7 linked regions of the Homo sapiens genome follow. The protein of the gene in region 5 binds, or shares a complex with, the protein of the main gene of each other region. Each region holds a gene or a part of one and is shown on either strand. Other genes may lie near its edges. The genes, in order: PPP1R8, SARNP, THOC5, CHTOP, DDX39B, AKAP17A and THOC1.

Region 1 (3,500 bases), on a different chromosome or scaffold from region 5:
CACATGATGGATGTGGTGGACCCAGTGCCATTTTCATTTTTTAAAAAGCTGGAGTTTCTGACCATGATCCTGACTATGGCATTTTTAAAATAAATTAAAAACAGACAAAAAAGCAAAACTGATGTGCTGGGGGGAAGCTGACCTGATAAGAGAGTTGGCGATCATACTCTTCCTTCTAAAACTCAGGTTGTTTTTGTTTTCCCCCTTACGTTTCTGATTTGGTTATTCCCAGCACACGGCACTTTCTTGGGTCACATTCGGTTGGAACCTCACAAGCCTCAGCAAATTCCCATCGATTCCACGGTCTCATTTGGCGCATCCACAAGGGCATACACTCTGCGCGAGAAGCCTCAGACATTGCCATCGGCTGTGAAAGGAGATGAGAAGATGGGTGGAGAGGATGATGAACTCAAGGGCTTACTGGGGCTTCCAGAGGAGGAAACTGAGCTTGATGTAATTCCCTGTTTATGTCATTGTTTTGTCTTTGGGGACCCTGGTTTTTGGAGTATACAGCTGTTCTATGTAGCTGGAAATGCCAGTGACTTAGCAGCAGGGGGTTCTCTTGAGTCCAGTAATGGGCCTTTGGCAATCTGGTGTGGCCAGCTGTGACAGCTCTCGGAGAGCCACATTGTATGGATTTGGTTGTGTATCACCAGGCCTAACAAGGAGGCTGAGTCCCAGCCACTAGTCTCCTTGAGCTGTTTTGTGCACCTTCACTGGCTGTTAGAAGCTAAGACTGGAAGCTACATTTCTCTGTCCCTTGACTGCTTAGAGCTAATGCTGTCCAATATGGTAGCCACTAACAATATTTCAAGTATTATGTAGTCACATATGGCTAGTGGCTGCTATGTTGGCTAGTGCAAAGAGAGAATGTTTTCATCCTCACAGAAAGTTCTGTCAGACAGCACTGGCTTAGAGAGACTGACATTTTCATTCATTCATGTAGCTTTTTTTGGTGCTATCTGAACAGTCCAGGAATCTTCTGAATAGAGCCAGACTGCTTTTGTTCTTCCATGGGCCTCGCTGTCCTGAGGGCCATGAATTTTATAAGATTTAATTTTAAGGTGCTAGAAGTTTTCCTTTTTTGAAACTGACCCCAGTAGTTTGGTGTGGCTATAGTCCTTTACATAGCTGTCACTGCACTGGTGTGATTGGTCTGTTCAAATAGACCAAATGCAATCATGTCCTTAACCACCCACCTGCATTTACTATTCCTGTACACCAAGGCAGTTTCCTGGCTCTTAGGAAGAAAAGCACGATAGAAATTGTACAACTTAGGCCGGGCACAGTGGCTCATGTTTGTAACCCCAGCACTTCGGGAGGCCGAGGTGGGCGGATCACCTGAGGTCAGGAGTTCGAGACCAGCCTGGCCAACATGGAGAAACCCCATCTCTACTAAAAATACAAAAAATTAGCTGGGTGTGGTGGTGCATGCCTGTAATCCCAGCTACTCAGGAGGCTGAGGCAGGAGAGTCACTTGCACCTGGGAGGTGGAGGTTGTGGTGAGCCAAGATCGCGCAGTTGCACTCCAGCCTGGGCAACAAGAGCGAAACTCCGTCTCAAAAAAAAAAAAAAAAAAGAGAAATTTTACAATTAAGAAGTCGTTTTGTTTTGAAGAAGTGGCTTCATAGCCAGGGACCTTGCTGTTGCCCATTTCCCCTTTAGGCCACCTTATCCAGGCTGCTGCTATACTTCCATGGCTTTTAGTTCAGTATGTTAGGTACTCCCTGGATCTTCATTCTTAAGACATTTAGAATATCTCAAACTTGTGGTTTGTACCAGAAAGGAATAATTTCAGTGGATTGGGAAGAGGCAAGCAACAGAGCTAAGGCCAAGTTAATTATTGAGATAGTTATGAATAGAATTGGGGCCAGACACAGGATGGGGCATGACAAAATATTAACGCCAAAAATTAAGTGCACTAGCAGTGTCCTTAATTTTGAAGGAGAAAGCTACTAGGAAGGAAGCAGCCAGTTGTCCTTTTTCATCTCAATTTTGTTACTTAAAAACAATTCTTGGCGTTCCTTCCAGCCACATTTCCTTTTAATTCTCAGCTTATTGTGGGCATGAAGACATGATAGCCTTTCTTCAGCAACAACAAAAAACACAACTCAAGGATATTTGCACAGATGACCTGTTCTCAGCTCAAGGCCCTTTACCTCTTGAATATCACTGCCCCACTAGTCAATGAGGATGTTCCACATTCTTTCTAATGAGACTTGAGACTTGTTAGTATTCGTAGTCTCGGGACAGTATGAATCTTCTCTAAATGCAGAAGTGTCTCAACTCCCTTTGGAGGTCAAGATTAGCCCCTCATGCCTTCCTCACCTTTATTTAGTATGATTTTCTCCATCAGATTCCCTTTGTACTGACTGCTGTCTTTCCTGTATGAACCCTGGCTTAGAACCTGACAGAGTTCAACACTGCCCACAACAAGCGGATTTCTACCCTTACCATTGAGGAGGGAAATCTGGACATTCAAAGACCAAAGAGGAAGAGGAAGAACTCACGGGTGACATTCAGTGAGGATGATGAGATCATCAACCCAGGTGAGGTATCTTGCTAGTTTATTCTGATGAAAAAGCTGTGGTTGGCCCGGGCGCGGTGGCTCACGCCTGTAGTCCTAGCACTTTGGGAGGCCGAGGAGGGTGGATCACTTAAGGTCAAGAGTTCAAGACTAGCCTGGCCAACAAGGTGAAACCCCATCTCTATTAAAAAAAATACAAAAATTAGCTGGGCATGGTGGTGTTCGCCTGTAGTCCCAGCTACTTGGGAGGTTAAGGCAGGAGAATTGCTTGAACCCAGGAGGCAGAAGCTGCAGTGAGCCGGGATTGTGCCATTGCACTCCTGCCTAGGTGACAAAAAAAAAAGAAAGAAAAAGCTGTGGTTGGTCAGGCATAGTGGCTCATGCCTATAATCCCAGCACTTTGGAAGGTTGAAGTTGGTGGATTGCTTGAGGCCAGGATTTCAAGACCAGGGTGGCCAACATGGCAGAACCCTGTCTCTACAAAAAATAAAAAAATCAGCCAGGCATGGTGGCACACACCTGCAGTCCCAGCTACTCAGGAAGCTGAGGCAGGAGAATCGCTTAAACCTGGGAGGCAGAGGTTGCAGTGAGCCGAGGTTGTGCCACTGCACTCCCACCTGGGTGACAGAGTGAGACTGTCTCCAAAAAAGAGTTTCCAGGGTTGGACCTAGAAATTTATATGTTTTTTAATTTTTCTTTTTTGTGTGTGTGTGAGACACGATCTCATTCTGTCGCCCAGGCTAGAGTGCAGTGGCACAGTCACGGCTCACTACAGCCTTGACCACCCAGGCTCAGGTGATCCTCCCACCTCAACCTCCTGAGTATCTGGGACAACAGGTGCACGTCACCACGCTCAGCTAATTGTCATATGTTTTGTAGAAATGGGGTTTCATCATGTTGCCCAGGCTGGTCTTGACCTCCTGGGCTTAAGCGATCCTCCTGCCTCAGTCTCCCAAAGCACTGGGATTACAGG
Region 2 (3,500 bases), on a different chromosome or scaffold from region 5:
ACATTAGCTAATGCATCTACCTAATTCTATGGTGGTTAGACCTGTATGCATGTATATGGTAGATTGTAATAACGGATCTGGGATAATAAGTGGTAAGGAGAATCTGCTTTTAGATCATTGGATTTTCTACTTGAAGGTTCATTCTTCCAATATGCTGGCTGCCACAGTAGTCTTAAGAAAAAAACCTTTTTCCCCCCTCAGAATATTTAGAAATAACTAGAGATTTGTGACAGTTAGTAGGTATACAAATAGATGAGGTTTTTTATTAAAGTGTGATGTTTATTCTTCAGCATCTGTTAGGCAGTTCCTCTTGTATATTGAATATCGTTAGAGGAAAATGGATCATCTTTGTGGACCTAGAGCCTTGGTAGAATTAAGGGCAGTAATTTGGGATGGAACTTCATTTTCTTTTTTTCTTTTCCTTGTGGGAACTACCATTTTATTCACTGGTGTTCATCCTGTTAACTAAGGAAAAGTTTTATTTTTTTCCCCTCAGCTTGCCGAACTAAAGCAAGAATGTCTTGCTCGTGGTTTGGAGACCAAGGGAATAAAGCAAGATCTTATCCACAGACTCCAGGCATATCTTGAAGAACATGGTGAGTACTTTGTGGAGGCGGAGTGATGTGAGTGAGGGGATTTTCAGGCTTTGACACTGAAAAGATTTCTTTTTTTTTTTTCAGGTCATTAGCAATGTAAGCTCTTAATTAACGGCATCAAGAAAACTCTCTCTTTTTTTTTTTTGAGATGGAGTCTTGCTCTGTTGCCCAGGCTGGAGTGCAGTGACGCAGTTTCAGCTCATTGCAACCTCTGTCTCCCGGCTTCAACCAATTCTCCTGTCTCAGCCTCCCAAGCAGCTGGGACTACAGGCGAGCACCACCATGCCTGGCTGATTTTTGTATTTTTAGTAGAGACGGGGTTTCACCATATTGGTTGGGCTGGTCTAGAATTCCTGACCTCAGGTGAGCCACCCGCCTCAGCCTCCCAAAGTGCTGGGATTACAGTTGTGAGCCACCGCGCCCAGCCATCTTGTACAACCTACATCTTAGGTTGTACAAGTCCTCTATCTAATTTTTATTTACGTATTCCCTTTTATTTCTATTCCTCATTTCACTTTCTCCCCAACCCATTTAGGCACCCGTTCTAATGTGTTTGAATGTATTTTTTTGGTGTTTTTCCTGGTAAACTATGTAGTGTTGTTTTGTAGAATGTTTTCATTTATATAATTGGTAATTACATAACTGGCCATAGCCTTGCTTTATTTCTCATTTTTTTCACTAAGTATTGTGTTTTTTTTTTTTTAAAGATGCGTCCATGTGGAATGTGACTGTGTAGTTATCTAGTCTGTTGATTCTAATTCCTGCATAGCATTCAATGATGGATAACCACACATTTTACTTAATTCACTCGGTGACAGAAAATTTTATTGCCACCAAGCCTCTGCTACTATAAGTGATACTACTTATAGTATACTATATGTATATAATAGTATATAGTATATATTATACTATGGGTTGAGTGTTATATATTTGAAATGCTTGGGACTAGAAGTGTTTCAGATTTTAGTTTTTTCGGATTTTGGAATATTTGTGTATATATATAATGAGATATCTTGGGGGTGAGATCCAAGCCTAAACACAAAATTTATTTGTTTCTTATCCACATATCTGAAAGTAGTTTTATACAGTATTTAAAATAATTTTGTACATGAAACAAAGTTTTGACTGTGACCCATTGCATGAGGTTAGGTGTGGGGTTTTCCACTTGTATCATATCAGCCTTCAGAAAGTTTTAGATTTAGGAGCATTTTAGGTTTTGAATTTTCAGATTGGTGATGCTTAACCTGTAGGATATAGTATACTATATCCTATATACTAATAGTATATAGTATATTATTATGAACTACTTATTTTATGCTCTTATGTTCCTGTGAAAGTCTTTTTGGGGTATATGCCCAAGAATGGTATTGCTAATTAATATTCATAAATATATACTTAATGTGACTAAGGACTCCCAAATTATTTTCCAGAATTGCTCTGTAGATCTGCAGTCTCATTACTAGTACATAAGGGTTCTTGTATCTTCACAAACCTAAACTTGGCACTGTCCTATCAAGTGGCCTAAGTTTTGCTAATTTGTTGGCTGTTTTATGTTCTCCATGAAAAAAGTTTAAACATTTCACAATTCTTTGGGTTTCTTCTTTGCCCATTTTTCTGTTGAGGTTCCCATAATTTGCCTGTTGGCTTGCAGGCATTTCTTTTATATTCTAATAACTATTGTTTTGTTGATTTTAGGCACAAATATCTTCTTTGGCTGTGCGGGGTGGTTCATGCCTGTAACTCAGCACTTTGGGAGGCTAAGGTGGTATGATCTCTTGAGGCCCGGAGTTTGAGACCAGTCTGGGCAGCATAGTGAGATCCCATCTCTAAGAAAAATAATAAAATTAGCTGGGTGTGGTGATGTGCACCTGTAGTCCTACCTACTTGGGAGGCTAAGGCAGGAGGATCCCTTGAGCCCAGGAGGGGGAGGCTGCAGGGAGCTGTGATTGTGCCATTGCACTTTATCTGGGCGACAGAGTAAGACTCTGTCTCAACAAAAACAAATGTCTTGTCATTTGTCTTTTAAGTTTCTTTGTGCTATCCTTAAGTAGAAGTACTTAGTTTTGAAAAATCTTCAATTTTTCACCTCTTACTTTTGGTTCTGGGTTGTTTTTCTTTTAAACAAATCTTTCCCCACCACTAAATCTCAAAGATACTTTTCCACATACTTTTTTTGTTTGTTATTCAAGACTGGGTCTTGCTCTGTCACCCAGGCTGGAGTGCAGTGACATGATCTCAGCTCACTGCAGCCTCTGCCTTCTGGGTTCAAGTAATGTTCCCACTTCAGCCTCCCCAGTAGCTAAGACTATAGGCGCACACCCCCACACCCAGCTAATTTTTTTATGTTTTTTGTAAAGACGGGGTTTCGCTGTGTTCCCCAAGCTGGTCGCTTGAACTCCTAGGTTCAAACGATCCACCTGCCTCTGCCTCCCAGATTGCTGGGATTACAGAGAGCCACGGTGCCTGGCCCAACATTACTTTTAAAATTAATTCTCTAGTTTGACTTCACATTTAGTTCTTCAGTCCAACTGGAGTTCACATTTGTAATTAATGTTAGGTAGAAATCTGGTTTTATCTTCTCCAGATGTAGCAGATTTTATGTGCATCAGTTTCTGCCTTCACTGTTGGATTTTTTGGGGGAAAGCAAAGTGATTATAATTTTAACCTTGGTAAGTGATCAAGATGGTTTTGTAGCAGGGCTTGACCTGAATATTTTAATATTCTTTAGCTGAAGAGGAGGCAAATGAAGAAGATGTACTGGGAGATGAAACAGAGGTGAGTTGGATAGAGTAAGGTTAGTCTCTGGTAATGTGCCACTGCTTTGGCCACATTGCTTTAACATCAGTCATTGGAGGACTTAGATGTAAATTTATTAGGGGAGCATAAGATGGGTATGAAGGTTCT
Region 3 (3,500 bases), on a different chromosome or scaffold from region 5:
CATTGTCACCTGATATCCCCCAGTGATACCTCAACATGCCTGTTCACTGTCAGACTCCACCTAATAGTAGCAGCCATGATTAACTGCCAATGTTTATCCAGCACTCAATGTGTGCCAGGTACTTTGGTGAGCTCTTTAAAAGCATAATTACATTTAATACTTATAAAGACCCTGGAAGACAGGGACTTTGCTTATCCCCAAAGGAGGAAACCAAGGCTCAGGCAAGTAGATAACTTGCCCAAGGGCATCCAGCTAAGAACAAACACTGCGCTAGGCTTTGGATCCATGTCTCTTGCTCTCCAGAGGCTCTGTCTGCTCTGTAACCACTAGGGAATACACATGCCATCTTCTGCTCCATTTCTTGCTTGAGAGGTAAGACCTAAAACTTTCACAAACATGGACTTAGCAGCTATATAACCCAAAAGAGGCCCATGGACTGGCCTGGTTAGCACAGGGTGGGAACAGATTCTGGACCAGTGCCACAAGAATGCAGCACTGATGGCTGAGTCAGTGCCCAGCACAATCAGTGGACTGGACAGCGGAGTGACAGGTCAGCCCCATCTGCTAAGACACTGACACAAATTTCCTAAGAACCAGACTCGGCCGGGAATGGTGGCTCATGCCTGTAATTCCAGCACTTTGGGAGGCCCAGGCAGGCGGATCACCTGAGGTCAAGAGTTCGAGACCAGCCTGGCCAACATGGTGAAACCCGTCTCTACTAAAATACAAAAATTAGCTGGGCACAGTGACATGCGCCTGTAATCCCAGCTACTCAGGAGGCTGAGACAGGAGAATCGCTTAAACTGGGGAGGCGGAGGTGAAACCCCCAACTCTATTAAAAATACAAAAATTGGCCGGGCACAGTGGCTCACGCCTGTAATCCCAACACTTTGGGAAGCCGAGGCAGGTGAATCACGAGGTCAAGAGGTAGAGACCATCCTGGCCAACATGGTGAAACCCCGCTTCTACTAAAAATACAAAAATTAGCTGGGCGTGGTGGCACACGCCTTGTAGTCCCAGCTTCTCAGGAGGCTGAGGCAGGAGAATTGGTTGAACCAGGGAGGTGGAGGTTGCAGCAAGCCGAGATCACACCATTGCATTCCAGCCTGGGCGACAAGAGTGAAACTCTGTGTCAAAAAAATAAATAAATAAATAGATAAATAAATAAATAAACCTCTTTATTCATATAGAAAAGTTTATACCTAAAGTGTGACTTGAAGCATTATTTATTTATTTATTTTTTGAGACGGAGTCTCATTCTGTCGCCCAGGCTAGAGTGCAGTGGCGCAATCTCGGCTCACTGCAACCTCTGCCTCCCGGCTTCACGCCATTCTCCTGCCTCAGCCTCCTGAGTAGCTGGGACTACAGGCACCCGCCACCATGCCCGGCTAATTTTTTATATTTTTAGTAGAGACGGGGTTTCACCATGTTAGCCAGGATGGTCTCGATCTCCTGACCTTGTGATCCGCCTGCCTTGGCCTCCCAAAGTGCTGGGATTACAGACGTGAGCCACCTCGCCTGGCTGAAGCATTATTTATGACAGCAAAAAATGGAAACAACCTAAAATCCAACAGGGGAATAATTTTGTGCATTTTTCTATACACCAGAATATACACTAGAATGTTGCACAACCTCCTGAAATAGTGTTTACAAAGCTTTCTGCCATAGGCATACACTTACAGATAAGGGGAAAGGCAAATACAAAATTAGATTTATGGTACAAAAGATAAGGTCTTCGGCATTAAAATTTCAAGGAGAGACCAGGCATGGTAACTCACACCTGTAATCCCAGCACTTTGGGAGGCCAAGGTGGGAGGATCACTTGAAGCCAGGAATTCAAGACCAGCCTGGGTAACAGAGTGAGAACCCTGCTCTACAAAAATAAAAATATTAGCCAGGCATGGTGGCAGGCACCCATAGTCCTGGCTACTTGGGAGGCTGAGGCAGAAGGATCGCTTGAGCCCAGGAGGTCAAGGCTGAAGTGAGTCGTGATAGTGCCACAGCACTCCATCCTGAGCAATAGAGTGAAACGCCATCTCTTTGGAAAAAAAAAAAAAAAAAAAAAAAAAAGGGCCAGGCACAGTGGCTCACGTCTGTAATCCCAGCACTTTGGGAAGCCAAGGCAGGCAGATCACTTGAGGTCAGGAGTTTGAGATCAGCCTAGCCAACATGGTGAAACCCCATCTCTACAAAAAATACAAATAATAGATGGGCGTGGTGGTGCACACCTACCACCCAGCTACTCGGGAGGCTGAGGACTGAGAATCACTTGAACCTGGGAGGCAGAGGTTGCAGTGAACTGAGATCACACCACCGCACTCCAGCCTGGGAGACAGAGTGAGACTCCATCTCAAAAAAAAAAAAAAAAAAAAAACCCTTAAGCAATTATAACCCCAACCCCATCCATGATGAGGTTGGTGAAGTTTAAACTATCCAGTGTGATTTAATCATAAAATGGGATTTGGTCTTAGAAACTATTCTGAGAGTTGCACAGTGTTTTGCTGCCTTATCCTGGGTCATGACAAAGCACTGACACTTTGTGGTTAAAAGGTCAGGAAGGAGGAAATGCTACCTTTTCCGCTGCTCCAGCTCCCAGTCCAGACGTGCCAGTGTTTGCTGGTGAGGGTCTCCCATGGTGACTTCGGCCTTGCTGATATCTGGTGGAGCCTCCTTATAAAACTCCTCTAAACTGACCAGATCAATTTCTTCATGCTTTGACCTACAGACAAAAACATGACATCAAGCTGCTGTTCTCAGGAAACTAAACTGTAGTTTAAGCAGGCCCAAAGTTATCCCCAACATATGCCTGCTTAGTCCTGGTCTACAGGATCCTGGAATCCAGTCTTCTCCACAAATGCTCATTAGCAGATATTTCAGTGTGAAGAAAGGTAGTTGGTGACATGCCATAGGATCCTTATCCATGCTGTCCAACCTTTTTACCCATGAATTAAAGACTCGGAAGGGATTCTTATCAAATTTACAAATGTCTCCAAGCTGAGCAGGAGAACTACTAGCTAAAAAGTCAAGTAAAAACACTACAGCCTGGGCCTAGGCTGTAGGGTTGAAAGCAAGACATAATTTAACAGGAATAAATACAAGGGTCTGCACTTAAGTTCAAGACATTAGCCGCGTAAGAACAGAATGAGGAAGATCCAGCATGGGAGAACTGGATGGAAAAAGATCTAGAGGCTTAAACCGTTGCATGCATAGTGATTTATATGTATAAAAGAAAAGAAATTCTGCCAGGCGCGGTGGCTCACCCCTGTAATCCCAGCACCTTGGGAGGCCAAGGCAGGTGGATTACCTGAGGTCAGGAGTTCGAGACCAGCCTGATCAACAAGGTGAAACCCCGTCTCTACTAAAAATTAGCTGGGCGTGGTGACGCATGCCTGTAATCCCAGCTACTTAGGAGGCTGAGGCAGGAGAATCGCTCGAACCCAGGAGGCAGAGGTTGCGGTGAGCCAGGATTGCGCCATTGCACTCCAGCCTGGGAGACAGAG
Region 4 (3,500 bases), on a different chromosome or scaffold from region 5:
AATGTCATTCTTGGGCCTTGTAAGAGGCACTCGCTTTGCTCCATTTCACTTTCTTTCCATTCTGCTTTTAGTTTGGTTTTGTTTTGGATTCTTCTACAGTTAAGTGTTCTTCTCTTCCATTCCATTATACTTCCTTGACAGAAATAATGAGTCTCTTCACAGGCTCATAAATGATCAAACTGATGTAACTTTGAAAAGTAACTACTTGGAGTCAGAAAAAGTGATGATTGGAGACTAAGAAAAGTAAAGATATTCAAAGGCAGTTTCTATCTCTGACAACTTTGTTCATTAAGAGTGCCTTTGTTTAGGCGCGGTGGCTCATGCCTGTAATCCCAGCACTTTGGCAGGCTGAGGCGGGCGGATCACGAGGTCAGGAGTTTGAGATCAGCCTGCCCAACATGGTGAAACCCTGTCTCTACTAAAAATAGAAAAATTAGCTGGGCGTGGTGGCGTGTGCCTATAATCCCAGCTACTCAGGAGGCTGAGGTAGGAGAATCACTTGAACCCGTGAGGCGAAGGTTGCAGTGAGCCAAGATCCTGCCACTGCACTCCAGCCAGGGCAACAGAGGACAGAGTGAGGCTCCGTTTCAAAAAAAAGAATGCCTTTGATCAGTGATTTCATTAAGTTGACTTTCGACCACTGAAATTTACTTAATGTCTATTTTTGCCTCTTCTGAGGCATATGTGCTTCTCTCCTTATCTCTTTGGCTATGATAAGCTAATTATTTATGTTTGCATAATATTTATGTTTGCATGTTAGTGACATATATTTTAAAATGTGATACACTCCTGTAATTTATGAGAGTATGTTCATTGCTGTGAGCTTTGAAGGTGCTCTAATCCTTCCTCATATTTGGCCTTAGAATGCACCTCGGATCCCCCAAGGTTTAGGCTTTCTTCATTTGTCTTTGAAACTATATCTTCTGTCTCTTGTCATATCTGCTTATTGCGTGTTTTTCATACCTTCCACCTCTCTAAAAGCCGTTACCTGAGCCCTCGTTATCACTTTTGGTTGAATGTGCTGCACTTAGCTGCATTTCTAAGTTTCTGATTCTTGCAAGTTTGTGGAAACAGAGGAGTCTTTAACCCACATCAGCCTTGATCTAAGTGTACCACTTTACTTAAAAGTTCGTGGGATCTGGAGCTCCTGGTCTAGCAAGCCATGAAAATGCCAATAAATGTTTGTAATAAAGCTTTTATTTAAACATCCATTTTGTTCGACCTTGAAGCTTTACTAATATGCTGAAGAACAAACAGCCGACGCCAGTGAATATTCGGGCTTCGATGCAGCAACAACAGCAGCTAGCCAGTGCCAGAAACAGAAGACTGGCCCAGCAGATGGAGAATAGACCCTCTGTCCAGGCAGCATTAAAACTTAAGCAGGTGAGAGAATGGGTCTTAATGCTCCAGAAGCAGCTGGTGATCTCTGTGAGGGAGTCCACTGAGGCTGTCAGGACGTGATGGATGATTGCAAAGTGGCTCAGGGCAAAAAGCTGAAACTTCTCTGGAAGAAAGAGAAGTTCAGAGAATTCCAATTTTGGCAGGTACCAATAAGTAACTTTTTACTGTCTTTCTCTTTTAGGGAGTTTGCCATCTATGTGGCCTGTTTCTGTTACCAATGAGTATTAATCTTTTGTTTTCTGATCCTTAACCCTTAACATAGATTAATGGCTTATTCCACAAAGAAACTTTATTTCAGCTTTAGATAATCTCACAGCATCCTTTACTCTCTGTTAAATGATTTACCCAACAGGGAAATAATTTTATTCTTTTTCCCATAGTGCAGGGAGTTTGCATGGCCTTAGTCAAAGGTTTTCTTTTTTTTTTTTTTTTTAGACGGAGTCTTGCTCTGTCGCCCAGGCTGGAGTGCAGTGGCACGATCTCGGCTCACTGCAAGCTCCGCCTCCCGGGTCCATACCATTCTCCTGCCTCAGCCTCCCGAACAGCTGGGACTAAAGGTGCCCGCCACCACACCCAGCTAATTTTTTTGTATATTTAATAGAGACAGGGTTTCACCATACTAGCCAGGATGGTCTCGATCTCCTGACCTCGTGATCCACCCGCCTCGGCCTCCCAAAGTGCTGGGATTACAGGCTTGAGCCACCGCGCCCAGCAGTCAAAGGTTTTCAATGCTAAAATATACAGAGTAGAGTGACCCTCATTTCCACAGCACCTAAAGTTTTACCAGTAAAGTGGAGCAAGAATACTGAGTAATTTGAGTTAGGGGTTCTCTTTTTCAAATTTACAGTGAGAGATAATCCTATTCAGACCTGAAATAAAACCTGCTCTTTATTATTCATAGAATTTATATGCAAGTCCGGACAGTGGCTGTGGAAGGATATGTCCAAGCTGTGGCTGGGCGTCTGGAGGGCAGTGCCATGCAACTGTAAGGGCTTTGGTAGCATTGCATGGCTATGCATAAATTCAGCAGTTAAATATAACACCCTTACACCCCCACCCTGAACCATTGGGCTCACTGACCAAAAATAAACAAGGGTGTCTGCTTCGGCTACCTTAAGCCTTGGAGTGACTGGATTCCTCCCTGACTCAGGAAAGCAGCAAAAGGCACCATTTTCCAAGAGTAAATGGAAGTTGCTGAAGATGAATCTCTGACAGATCATTCCAAAGGACCTTTCAACAAGAAGCTTTAAGTATAGGCTCTGCAGGAAGTAGTCCCTATCCAGAGTAGTACTATTAAATAGAATTTTTTTATGTTTTTGGTTTGGTTTGGTTTGGTTTGTTTTGAGACGGAGTCTTGCTCTGTCACCCAGGCTGTAGTGCAGTGGTGCAATCTCAACTCACTGCAGCCTCCGCCTCCCGGGTTCAAGCGATTCTCCTGTCTCAGCTACAGGCGCCCGCCACCACACCCGGCTAATTTTTGTATTTTTAGTAGAGACGGAGTTTTGTCATGTTGGCCAGACTGGTCTTGAACTCCTGACCTCAAGTGATCTGCCTGCCTCAGTATCCCAAAGTGTTCAGATTACAGGCATGAGCTACCGTGCCCAGCCAGAACTTTCTACAATGATGGAAATGTTCTGTATTTGCTCTCCGGTACAGTAGCCACTAGTCACATGTGGCTATTGAAAACTTTAAATGTGACTAGTGCAATTAAGGAGCTTAATTTTTTTTAATTTAATTTTAGGCCAGGCCTGTAATCCCAGCACTCTGGGAGGCCAAGGCAGGCGGATCACTTGAGGTCAGGAGTTTGAGACTAGCCTGGCCAATGTGGCAAAACCCCATCTCTACTAAAAAAAAAAAAAAGCCGGGCATGGTGGCGCATACCTGTAATCCCAGCTACTCAAGAGGCTAAGGAGAATCTCTTGAACCCAGGAAGTGGAGGTTGCGGTGAGTGGAGTTGGCACCACTGCATTCCAGCTTGGGTGACAGTGAGACTCTGTCTCAAGAAAATAAGTAAAATTTGCTTTTAATTTAGGCTGGGTATGGTGGCTCACACTTGTAATCCCAGCACTTTGGGAGGCCTGGGCAGGTGGATCACCTGA
Region 5 (4,115 bases):
TCCCATGCCCGACTTGGCCTGGCACAGGACATCCATTCCCAGAATGGCCTGAGGGATGCACTCATGCTGGACTAAAAGTTGGGGGGGGAGGAAGATAAATTAGACTTCAGTCTCCAGATAACTCTACCTTTTTCACCATGCCAAGCCCATTTCTTACCACTCAATTCTCAAAGTCTAGTATTTACCTGGTTCTTGCCAACTTCCAGACCCATTTTACCTCTCTCTGCTCAATTACATTCACCTCAAAATCAGACTCTCCTAATTCCTCCTAGCTTTAGCCTCCTCCAGATCTAGGCCTTCCCAGTCCTAGTAACAAACCCCTTGCATCTACCAACCGCTCACCTTCAATGATCCTAGCTCTGTCCTTATTTTTCTTAATCTGTAACAATTCATGACATTTGAATACCTGCCACAGACCACTTCTCCTGCTTAGGTTGCTATACTTCGGGTCACGTAACTACTACAACCCTGGACAAAATGAAGGACTTGGTACCTGACCCAGAAGCCAGTCATCTCTAAACCAGTCATAGAGGTTTCCAGAGACCACAGTTGGCCTGGCCCAACAGAGGGAGACTACAGGTCCAAGCAGGACCTTTCTGGAAATTTAAAATTAGAAGTCAAGTGACAAAATTAAAAATAAGCAGACAAGAAAAGCCAGTCACAAGAATGAATGGCAGACCTGGAAGTCACTTTTGGATCATTAGCACTTTGGTGCTATCACGAAAGAAAGAATAAGCCTGTATAAGCCTCCTCTATCCAAAATTGTTTTTGATACTTATCCCCTGATTTTTTCTTCCTCACTGTCGCCCCGGCTGGTGCACAGTGGTGCAATCACGGCTCACTGAAGCCTCAACCTTCACCTGCTTAATTTCTGAACGTTTTGTAGAGACAGGAGTCTCGCTGTGTTGCCCAGGCTTCTCTTGCACTTTTGAGCTCAAGTGGCCACCCTCCTGCCTCGGCCTCCCAAAGTGCTGGGATTACAGGCGTGAGCCACTGCACCTGGCCCTGATCTAGCCTTAAGTATAAACCCTTACCACCACCTGAGCAACGACAAACACATCTTTGTATTGTACCCTTAAAGAGCCCAATGAGCACTACATGCCCAAGAGAAAATTTACCTTCTGACGGATGCTCAAAGCCACAGTCGACAATGGCCCGGAGCAACTCTGGCTTGAGCAGGAAGTCACGAAAGCCAGAGCTGTGGATGGAGACATAGGAGCCCTTGACATCCTTCTTGGCAGGGGCCTCAGCCCCATCTCCCCCAGCTGCTGTCTCCACCTCATCATCTTCATAGTCCAAGAGCTCATTGTCCACATCGTTCTCTGCCATAACTGGGCCGGCAGGGGAAGAAGGGAAGGGGGATCTGGATGGGTTCTCGCAAAATAGGTGAAAACAAGGGGTGAAGAGTAGGGGATTGAGGAACAGCAAAGGAAAACAAAGATACTATTTCTAACAGAAGAGCTGGAGGGGGGAAAAAAAAAAGCAAGACTTAATCACGAGCACAGCCTTCACCACCTCTTTTCCATCCCCAGTTCCCACTTTCCCTAAACCAGGAAACTTTTACCTGGAAAGAAAAACAGATACAAAACATAAAAACGAAAAGCAAATATAACAGAACAGAAAAAGCAGTACCAGGGAAAGTGGTTAGGACAGAGGTTCCCAACAAGATTAGCAATCACAGTAGCGGAAACCAGAAAAGTTGGAAGGGGAAGACCAACTTATAAATTCTTGATCTGAAAGTAACAGTGAGGAAATAGAATAGATAATAAAAGGTAAAATACGACTAATAACTTAGTAAAGTGGAAAATGGAGATGACAAGTAGAGTCCTGAAAAGTCCTCAAAGGAAGACTCCGCTTTCCCTATTATAATCCCACCGTTATGGATGCCTAACTCAGCAGCCATCAGTCAAGGGTGATAGATGAGGGTCATCACTGCGCAAAGCGCTCACCTTTCGAAAAGAAAACATCATATGGCCGCCGTCCACCTCCCATAGCTCTCAGCCTCCCACTTCTCAGTATCCTCCCTTCCGCTGTTTAAGCAAGCCTTGTGTAATTAGCATGGGGGGGAGGGGCGGTGCAAGACAAATGGCTCGGCCACAAAAAAACAAAATTCATGTCTCCACCCTACAATAAGAAAGCTAATAGGTGACAGAGAAAGGCAATCCCCGCCCAGGCTTTAACAGGATCTTTACCAAGTGGTCTCACATCACTGTTACGCTACGAAGGTGAGACTCCTTTTGGAGAAACATACAATGACACCAATCGTATCGTAAACACTTGGAAGGCACTCCAAATTAAGTTGGGCAAGTCAAGGTGAGAAAAATCCAACTGGGCCCAGAAACCAGCTCCTCCTCCCAGTCCCACCGAGGGCCGAGAAAGAGCTCAAGAAAGGACAAGGAAGGTGAGAAGAGCCCCGCCCTCCGCAAATACCAAGACCAAGGGACGCCGAGCGCCGCCTCTCATTGATGCTGAGGCCTCCAATATGAGAAGAACCCATTGGAAGAAGGGAGCAAAACGAACACAATGGCGCCGAGGACACCATCTTGGATTGGGTCCCCCCTTAGCTTCCCTTCCTTCCCCCAGGAGCTCTTTGCTCTCGAAAGGGATGCAAGCTAAGGAAATAGCGAACCAACTAGGCCCCAGCGACCAGACCATCGCCTGTGAAAAGGGTATCAGGAACCCATGTGACGGGATGGGTGCGGAGAAGCGCAGATGGAAACGGATTGTAGCGAAGGCCAAAGCTTACCTAAACAGGGAGAGCGCGTATGGCGGCAGCAACAGCGACGAAGGAGGGAAATCTGCCTTCACTTCCGGTTGCAGGCTTCCCTCTACTCCAGCCTCCCGCCTTCTTGGCTGCAAGAGCGCAGGCGCAAGGGACCGGAAACAGGGCCTTCCGCGGTTATACAGATCCGTGCGCTCCAGGCTTGCCTTTGGAAAATGCCTGTCTGAAATTTGTTTTAAAACCGTTTCTAACTTCACTGCTACCGCCAGTAACAAAAGATATAAAGGAAACTAACGTCTCCCCCCCACTGTTATCTTTATTCTCTTATCCTACTCCTCTCCATGCCCCTCATCTCTTCGTTTAGGTTTTTGCCACGCAGGTCTTCTCTGTAGGCACCCCTCCATGGATGCGCGAGGAACGAGTGTGGCGAAGGCTGCGAGTTCCCACGGGGTCCTTGGCCCGGTAGTGAAGGTGACCTGAGGACTGCTGGGCACGCACTAGGAACCGGCAGGCCCTAGCTGAGGGGAGGGAGGAGGGAAGTCTCAGGGAACTGGATTGCTCGGGGGTGTTTCCCGACTCTTTCCCAGTCGTGGGGCTGGTGGGCGGTATTTTCCCAAAAGGATGCTGTCCGAGGTAGCTGATGCCCTAGGGCCAGTGAGTCAGGAAGGTGTTCTGAATCCGAGCGGGAAGACGGGGTCTGGATTCGGCCCCAAGTGTTAATAGTAGGGCTTGAGGGTTATACTACATTCCATTAATACTGTTTTTGTTTTTGTTTTGAGACAGAGTCTCGCCCTGTCGCCCAGGCGGGAGTGCAATGTCCTGATCTCGGCTCACTGCAACCGCTGCTTCCCGGGTTCAAGCGATTCTCCTGCCTCAGCCTCCCGAGTAGCTAGGATTACAGGCGCCCGCCACCACGCCCAGCAAATTTTTGTTTTTTTAGTAGAGACGGGGCTTCACCCATGTATGACCTCAGGTGATCCACCCACTTCGGCCTCCCAGAGTGCTGGGATTACAGGCGTGAGCCACCGCGCCCGGCCCATTAATACTGTTAATTCGAGCAGAATGTTCTTGGCCCCGCCCCAACAGCCCCATTGTTCAACCTGGATTTTTTTCCTGAATGAAACATTTGCTATCCCCGTCTTTGAGATGGGGAGCTACAAAAGTAAGACCTGATGTCCTGCTGTGTAATAAAACAACAAACGTTTGGCCCTCTCCCTGTTAACATACTTAATCATTTAATACTAAGGAGTAGGTACCGTTATTCTCATCTTATTGACAGAAGCGAAGCAAAGCAACATATCTCAAGCAGTACGGCTGGTGAGGTTACAGCCAGGATGCAAACATCTCTCATTCTCTATTGTATTCTGCCTCCCTGCTCAAAGAATCTGGTTAG
Region 6 (3,500 bases), on a different chromosome or scaffold from region 5:
TTTTTTTATTTTTTTTATTTTTATTTTTTTTTCGAGGCAGAGTCTCGATCTGTTTCCTGGACTGGAGTGCAGTGGCGCAATCTTTGCTCAGTGCATCCTCCGCCTCCTGGGTTCGAGCGATTCTTCTGCCTCAGCCTCCCGAGTAGCTGGGACTACAGGCGCGTGCCATCACACCTGGCTAATTTTTGTATTTTTAGTAGAAACAGGGTTTTGCCGTATTGGCCAGGCTGGTCTCGAACTCCTGACCTCATGAACTGCCTGCCTCGCCCTCCCAAAGTGCTGGGATTACAGGCGTGAGCCACTGCGCTCAGCCTAGCCTCGTGTTTTGACCGTGTTGGCTTCACAGTGACAAATGAGCCAGCCTCCTGGAGGGGGTTTTGTGGCCTTAAGATGTGCCCTGTGGGTGTGGGCAGGCGGCCTGCTCAGTGACTGTGGCCACAGGGAATGGTGGAGCCGGGTAGCGGAAGGGGAGCTGTGTCTCGCAGCGGTGGCGTGTCACTTGTGTTCAGTAAGTGGCGAGGGCTAGTTGGTGTTCCTCGCTGAGTCGTAACTCCGTGGGATGAGCTAAGTCTTGAGCCACTGATGGTGACTTGAAGGGATTGGTTTGGCTTCTGGGCTCCACTGTCTGGGTCTGCACCGGACATGAGTGGTGAGCGGTGAGCGGTGAGCGGGCGCTCAGGCTCTGAGGCCACTCGGCCCTACGGCCCAGGAGAGGGCGCCTGGCCGTGTGTCTGGGGGGTTTTGGGGGAAGGCCATCTGACACTGTTTTTGCTTTTAAAGGTTTCTTTTGATTCGACCAAACACCTGAGTGATGCCTCAATTAAGAAGCGGCAGCTGGAGAGGCAGAAGCTTCAGGAACTGGAGCAGCAAAGAGAAGAACAAAAGCGCAGAGAGAAGGAAGCGGAGGAGAGGCAGCGAGCGGAGGAAAGGTACCTTCTGCGGGAGCGGGCCCTCGGCGCTGGTGTCCGGCACCTGGGAGTGTGCGCAGACCCGTGTGCGTGTGTCTGCATGTATTCCTGTGCGTGTGTGTGTGCATGCATGCTTGTGAGCTTGTGTGTGTACCTGTGTGCATGGACGCACGTGTGCCTGTGAACCGGTGTGTGTACTTTGTATGTCCCTATGTGCGCCCGAGTGTGTGCCTGAGCATCTGTGTGCACGTGTGCCTGTGTGTGCGTGCATGTGTGTGAGCTCGTGTGTGTACCTGTGTGTGTATGTGCACGTGTGCCCACATGTGTGTGCTTCTGTATCGGCACATAGCACACATGTGCCTGTGTGCATGCGTGTGTGCCTGTGAACCCGTGTGTGTACTTGTGTGTGCACGTATGGGTGTGTGTGCAGGCCTGTGGGTGCTCAGCTGTGCACGTGAGGACCTGCGTGAGTGGCTGTTTGAGACGCAGCAGAATATGAATGTTTCTCTTTTTCTTGTCACACGTCGTGGTCTGACACGATCTCTGCCGGCTCCCAGGACCGCGCCTTGCCCGAAGAGCCACCTCTTCTCCCTCCACATGCTGTTCACACCTCCCGCTGAAACAAGCAGAATGCCTTGGCTGTTTGCAAGTTTGCATTTAGGTTGAGGCTACATTTACAAAATGAAGTAGAGGGTTGATGGTGATGGCCAGATTTAAAAAAAAAAAAAAAAACAAAAAACCAATGATAGGACAAAAACCCGGTTTCACATAAGAGGCCTTTAAAGCAATTGCCTGGGTCGTTCACTGTGGTTGGGGTACCAGAGACAACCTCAGGTCACTCTTTGTAGCCCCTTTTATCTTCTTAGCATTGCAGGAGGGAACCAACAACTTTCTGTGAATCCCCTGAGGCGGAATCCTCCTCCTCCTCCTCCTCCTCCATCCCTCCCACCCTCCTAGTGAGGTGGATTCCTCCTCCTCCTCCTCCATCCCTCCCACCCTCCTAGTGAGGCGGAATCCTCCTCTTCCTCCTCCATCCCTCCCACCCTCCTAGTGAGGTGGATTCCTCCTCCTCCTCCTCCATCCCTCCCACCCTCCTAGTGAGGTGGATTCCTCCTCCTCCTCCTCCATCCCTCCCACCCTCCTAGTGAGGTGGATTCCTCCTCCTCCTCCTCCATCCCTCCCACCCTCCTAGTGAGGTGGATTCCTCCTCCTCCTTCTCCGTCCCTCCCACCCTCCTAGTGAGGTGGATTCCTCCTCCTCCTCCTCTTCCTCCTCCATCCCTCCCGCTGTGCCCTCCTAGTGAGGCGGATTCGTCCTCTTCCTCCTCCATCCCTCCTGCCGTGTCCTCCTAGTGAGGTGGATTCCTCCTCCTCCTTCTCCGTCCCTCCCACCCTCCTAGTGAGGCGGAATCCTCCTCCTCCTACTCCTCTTCGTCCTCCGTCCCTCCCGCTGTGTCCTCTGACGACTTTGGTGCGTCCTGCACGTCTGTTGCGCTTCATGTCGCCGATATCAAGTCTGGGACGTGTTGGACTTGGCTGGGGGGCTCCTGGACAGCCTCTGGTGGGACCGAGTTGGTCCGTTTTGTTTCCATTTCTCACTGCTTTATGTGACGCTGGTGCCAGCGTGTTGATGTGTGTGGCTGGTGATGTTTGCACGAGAGTCCCGGCACTGAACTCCTGGGAGCAGGTCCATCCTGCCCGTGGTGTTCTTTACGTAGCCCCCGTTGCCTCCCCAGGGGAGAGTCGGGTTGTCAGCCTCTGAATCTGAACCCCGAGGGCTCCTTAGGTGAGGCAGGTGCAGTGTGTAAGCGAGTGGCCGTGAATGTGCTGGGGGGGCCCATGTCAGCCGTCAGGATTCCCAGGACCTAAGGCAGGCAGCACAGAGAGGCAGACGCCCTGGGAGGGAGGGACATGCTGCTGCGTCGCCATCCTGGGAGGCGGTCCCTGGGAGGGGCGGTTCGGATGTGGGGTTGAGTCCGGGTCCCCTGTGTCAGCCACTGTCAGGCCGAGCAGGACAGCTGGGGTGGGAGACAGTCCTGGGGCGTTACAGGGACTCTTCCAGGCTGCAGACACAGCCCAGGCCTGGCTGAATGTGCCTGTCCACATTCTGGAAGTGTGGAGTGGGACTCAGAGCCTCGGACCTCTCGGTGTCGCAGGAGTGTCCCCGCAACATTTCAGAAAGCAGCTTGCGGGTGCGGAGAAGAAGCTGCATCCTTGATCTTTCCCTGAGGAGAGATGGACGTTGGAGTAGTGGAGTGTGTCTCTGCAGGGAAGGGACCCCGTCTGCCTGGCCAGACCACAGAGGGATTGGGGGAAGCGGGGCCGGGCCATGAGGTTCTCGAGAGCAGGATGGGGTGTCCAGAGCCCCGGGGAGGGGCAGGCCTGTTGTCTGGGGGAGCTGGCCAGGAGGGCTCCACACGCAGGGCCGTACTTGTCCCCGCTGTCCCCCACTGTCCTTCCTCAGAGGCTGAGCATGAGGGGAGGCCCAGGGCAGCCTCCTGCATTTCTTTCTGGTGGGTGGAGATGAGGCATGTTTGCTTGTTCAGCCCTCACGTGTAACTTTGAGCTTGATGAGAGCTGTCCTCTGAAAGCT
Region 7 (3,500 bases), on a different chromosome or scaffold from region 5:
AGCTATCTTGTTGAAACAGAAGTCCTCAAGTCATGGCTCTGGGCCAGATCTAACCTACTGCTTATAAACAAAGGTTTATTGGAATAGTACCATGACCATCCACTTACCTGTGGCTGTTTTTGCACTATAATGGCACAGCTGAGTAGTTGCAACTGAGATTATAAAGGCCACAAAGCCTGAAATACTTACTCTCTGGTCCTTTACAGAAAAAGTTTGCCAATCCTGTTTTAGAAGAATTTGTTATATTTTTCTTGGCTACTTAAAGATCAGTTGTCCTTTTTTGTCATAATTAAAATCTAAGATAAATAGGTAGTTCTCAGAATAGCATGGTGTGTGTTATGTTATTTTTAATAGTTTTTGTTTTATATGCAATTTTTTGTGGGGGCAGCACCATCCAAATTCAGATTAAGTGGTTAGTGAGAAATAATCTGGAATTGTCTTCTAACTGGACAGAATTTGGTGGAATTTATTTGCTCAGTTTTTAGCACAAGAAATGCGTAAGAGTTTCCACAGGTGGTTAAACAATTTCACTGGTAAATTTCTGTACACTCTTAAAAATGTTCCCTAATCTATTTGTCCCTTACACAGACTTCTTAAATCATATTTCTTCGTTTTTTTTTTTTTTTTTTTTGAGACGGAGCCTCCCAGGTTCAAGGGATTCTTCAGCCTCAGTCTCCTGAGTAGCTGGGACTACAGGTGCCCGCCACCACACCTGGCTAATTTTTGTATTTTTAGTCGAGACGGGGTTTCACCATGTTGGCCAGGCTGGTCTCAAACTCCTGATCTCAAGTTACCCGCCCCCCTCCGCCTCCCGAAGTGCTGGGATTACAGGCGTGAGCCACCACCACTGGCCAAGAAATTATATTTCTTTAGGAGTAGGGAGCTTGTACCTACTTTTGCAACAAGTGAAATATCATACAAAATAGTTTTAACTCCCATTCTGCTATCATAATTTGTATTGTTAGTGTGCCTTGCAATATACAGTCTACATACATGATTGACTGGGAGTAAATTCTAGGCATTTTGATGCAGAAAAGCACTAAACAAATTTGGGTAACAATGTCGAATAAAACTAATATTTTTATTTTGCAGTATTCTGAAGAAGTTTTAGCTGTTTTTAAGAGTTATAAATTAGATGATACTCAGGCCTCAAGAAAAAAGATGGAAGAATTGAAAACAGGAGGAGAACATGTATATTTTGCAAAATTTTTAACAAGTGAAAAGGTATAAGTTTTTCTTTTTCATTAAGCATAATAAGAAATGGTCTTGTTTTATTTCCGTTTAGCTGACAGCCTTTCTAAGTTAAACTGAATAGAAATGTTTCTTATTTTACTTTGGGTTAAAGCTGATTGATTAATGTTAGTTTGAAAGTCCCATTTCTTCCTTTCAGAAGTAGGACTAATTTGGTTTCAAAGGTGAAAGTAGTTCTACATTAAGTCTGTTTTGTAAACTAATTTTGGAATAAATGCAGTTTAATTACTTTCATGTCTATATATTTTAAATGTCAAGTTAGGATTTAATTTGTATATGAAAATATTTCATAATTATTATTTAGGTGCAAGTAAGGGGTTTAAAAGTTCCTTGTTAATCTTATTTATACATTTTAAAAAGTAAATTTTATTCAAATATAATGCTACAAGATTATGTAAAGTTTCTAGTCAAGATGGCACATTGAGTTTATGTTTCGACTCACTCCCTTTGCTCCAAACACATAGCAATGACGGGTAAAATATAAACGAGAAAACAAAAGAGACAAGGCTGGGCTTCCAGAAACAAGATAAATATCTTCATGGACCAGAAATGCCAAGTAGTGAGCAAAACTGCAGCCTGGGCCTGCTGGACTCTCTATCCAAGGCAGGTGGTGGTGTCCAGGAATTTGGCTACAAGTAACAGAGACTAAATGTGCACCATGTGGGACAAGGGGCCAGAGCCAGATTCACTTCTTGAAGCCAAGGACTAGGGTGGAACTTTTATCCAGTTTTGGGAAGAAACTAAGAAAAAATATTGCCAGTCTTCTGCCAAGGGCTATGGTTTTATAGGAAGTTGTGAGCCTAGGGATAACAAAGACAGCTTTGTGTCCATCTGCTTGCTCAGTGACCAGATATGTGATATGCTCAGTATACTTATGAAACAGCTGCTCCAAGAAGTCATCATAAGACTTCTTCTAGACTTTTGGACTCAGGGGCCCTGGTAGAAGCAGATGCAAAACTGCTAGACAGGGAAGGATGTACACAGAGAGGGAGGGGAAAGGAAGTAAACAAACATCCCAAAAGAAAAGGCTCCTGTTCAAAACTCTGATAAATTAAAATTCCAAAATCCATAAATCTAATGCTAAGAAGGATCACCAGCAAAATCAACTATTGGGATATATATATATATTTATTCCAGATGAAATATATAGCCTGACCAAGACTTTATGTATGTTTTGGATACTCAAAAAGATAATCGATGAGATAACATCCATTGAAAAGGAACAAGAAATCATGAAACAAAAGCAGGCTGAAATGAAGTAGGACAGTCGATACAACTAATCGGGAGTCTTGGGAATGAAAAATACAATAATTGAAACCAAAACTCAGCACACAGAATTAAACTATACACTGGACATAGATGAACAAAGAACTAGTGAACTGAAGAAGGTGATGAGAACTTCATCCAGCAAGCAGCACAGACAGATTTTTTTTTTTTAAGTGGAAGAGCAGTTAAAAGCCATGGTGAATAGATTGGGAATTTCCAACATCTGTCTAGTAGGATTTCCAAAGAAGAAAATGGAGGGAATGGTAGAGAAACTGGATTGCAAAGAATTGAAGGAAATCTCAAATCCTCAGCTTAAAAGTGTGTCACAACTGCCAAGCAGGATAAAGAAAGATAAATCTACTCTTCATTACATCATGCCATAACTGTGGGCATTCAGAGAAAACCTAAAAGCCACTAAGGGATAAGAAAGACAAATATACTGGGAAGGCACAGCAGTTTGACTGTTAGCAGATTTCTAACATATCAACCATTAATACCAGAAGACAGTAGAGAAATATTAAAGTGCTGAAAGAAAAATGACATTCAATCTAGAATTTTATACCGAGTTAAATATACTCAAGACTGTCGATGAAAGAAAGACATTTTTATTTAAAGACCAGGATAACTTACCACTCAGTGACCCTCATTTTGAAAAAAACTACTCAAGGATGTTCTTCAGGAGGAAGGAAATTGAACCCATAAGAATGGAGTGGGATACAGAAGGCAACGGTGAGCACAAAAATTGAAAAATATGACAGTAAATTTACTATTGACTATAAACACAAAAAAGTCATGAATGATTTAAAATTTTTTTAATTAAAAAATTTTATTAACGTGGAACTTAACTAGATGACAGTAATAATATGGAAGGGGAAAGCAGAGATGTTTAGTGAGTAATTTAAAATTATGGCAGTCCTTGTAATCTTCAGGAGTAGGAAAGGAATACTGAATATTCCTTTTCATGTATATTAAAAGGGTAACCA

Evidence for each region.
Region 1: DDX39B (region 5) and PPP1R8 share a complex: the UniProt entries of both Homo sapiens proteins name them as parts of the spliceosome.
Region 2: DDX39B (region 5) and SARNP share a complex: the UniProt entries of both Homo sapiens proteins name them as parts of the transcription/export (TREX) complex.
Region 3: DDX39B (region 5) and THOC5 share a complex: the UniProt entries of both Homo sapiens proteins name them as parts of the transcription/export (TREX) complex.
Region 4: DDX39B (region 5) and CHTOP share a complex: the UniProt entries of both Homo sapiens proteins name them as parts of the transcription/export (TREX) complex.
Region 6: DDX39B (region 5) and AKAP17A share a complex: the UniProt entries of both Homo sapiens proteins name them as parts of the spliceosome.
Region 7: DDX39B (region 5) and THOC1 share a complex: the UniProt entries of both Homo sapiens proteins name them as parts of the transcription/export (TREX) complex.

The regions. Positions count from the first base shown.
Region 1 is NC_000001.11:27,840,782-27,844,281, forward strand, and holds part of PPP1R8 (nuclear inhibitor of protein phosphatase 1), read left to right. Parts: intron 1-232; coding exon 233-453; intron 454-2,404; coding exon 2,405-2,549; intron 2,550-3,500. UniProt on the Homo sapiens protein: Inhibitor subunit of the major nuclear protein phosphatase-1 (PP-1). It has RNA-binding activity but does not cleave RNA and may target PP-1 to RNA-associated substrates. May also be involved in pre-mRNA splicing.
Region 2 is NC_000012.12:55,800,725-55,804,224, reverse strand, and holds part of SARNP (SAP domain-containing ribonucleoprotein), read left to right. Parts: intron 1-496; coding exon 497-596; intron 597-3,324; coding exon 3,325-3,371; intron 3,372-3,500. UniProt on the Homo sapiens protein: Binds both single-stranded and double-stranded DNA with higher affinity for the single-stranded form. Specifically binds to scaffold/matrix attachment region DNA. Also binds single-stranded RNA. Enhances RNA unwinding activity of DDX39A.
Region 3 is NC_000022.11:29,536,758-29,540,257, forward strand, and holds part of THOC5 (THO complex subunit 5), read right to left. Parts: intron 2,720-3,500; coding exon 2,573-2,719; intron 1-2,572. UniProt on the Homo sapiens protein: Component of the THO subcomplex of the TREX complex which is thought to couple mRNA transcription, processing and nuclear export, and which specifically associates with spliced mRNA and not with unspliced pre-mRNA.
Region 4 is NC_000001.11:153,637,066-153,640,565, forward strand, and holds part of CHTOP (chromatin target of PRMT1 protein), read left to right. Parts: intron 1-1,229; coding exon 1,230-1,383; intron 1,384-3,500. UniProt on the Homo sapiens protein: Plays an important role in the ligand-dependent activation of estrogen receptor target genes. May play a role in the silencing of fetal globin genes.
Region 5 is NC_000006.12:31,539,204-31,543,318, forward strand, and holds the start of DDX39B (spliceosome RNA helicase DDX39B), read right to left. Parts: upstream 2,801-4,115; 5' UTR 2,747-2,800; intron 1,976-2,746; exon of another isoform or gene 1,898-1,975; intron 1,462-1,897; 5' UTR 1,330-1,461; coding exon 1,119-1,329; intron 72-1,118; coding exon 1-71. UniProt on the Homo sapiens protein: Involved in nuclear export of spliced and unspliced mRNA. Component of the TREX complex which is thought to couple mRNA transcription, processing and nuclear export, and specifically associates with spliced mRNA and not with unspliced pre-mRNA.
Region 6 is NC_000023.11:1,594,604-1,598,103, forward strand, and holds part of AKAP17A (A-kinase anchor protein 17A), read left to right. Parts: intron 1-780; coding exon 781-929; intron 930-3,500. UniProt on the Homo sapiens protein: Splice factor regulating alternative splice site selection for certain mRNA precursors. Mediates regulation of pre-mRNA splicing in a PKA-dependent manner.
Region 7 is NC_000018.10:244,048-247,547, reverse strand, and holds part of THOC1 (THO complex subunit 1), read left to right. Parts: intron 1-1,092; coding exon 1,093-1,224; intron 1,225-1,715; coding exon of another isoform or gene 1,716-1,721; exon of another isoform or gene 1,722-3,246; intron 3,247-3,500. UniProt on the Homo sapiens protein: Component of the THO subcomplex of the TREX complex which is thought to couple mRNA transcription, processing and nuclear export, and which specifically associates with spliced mRNA and not with unspliced pre-mRNA.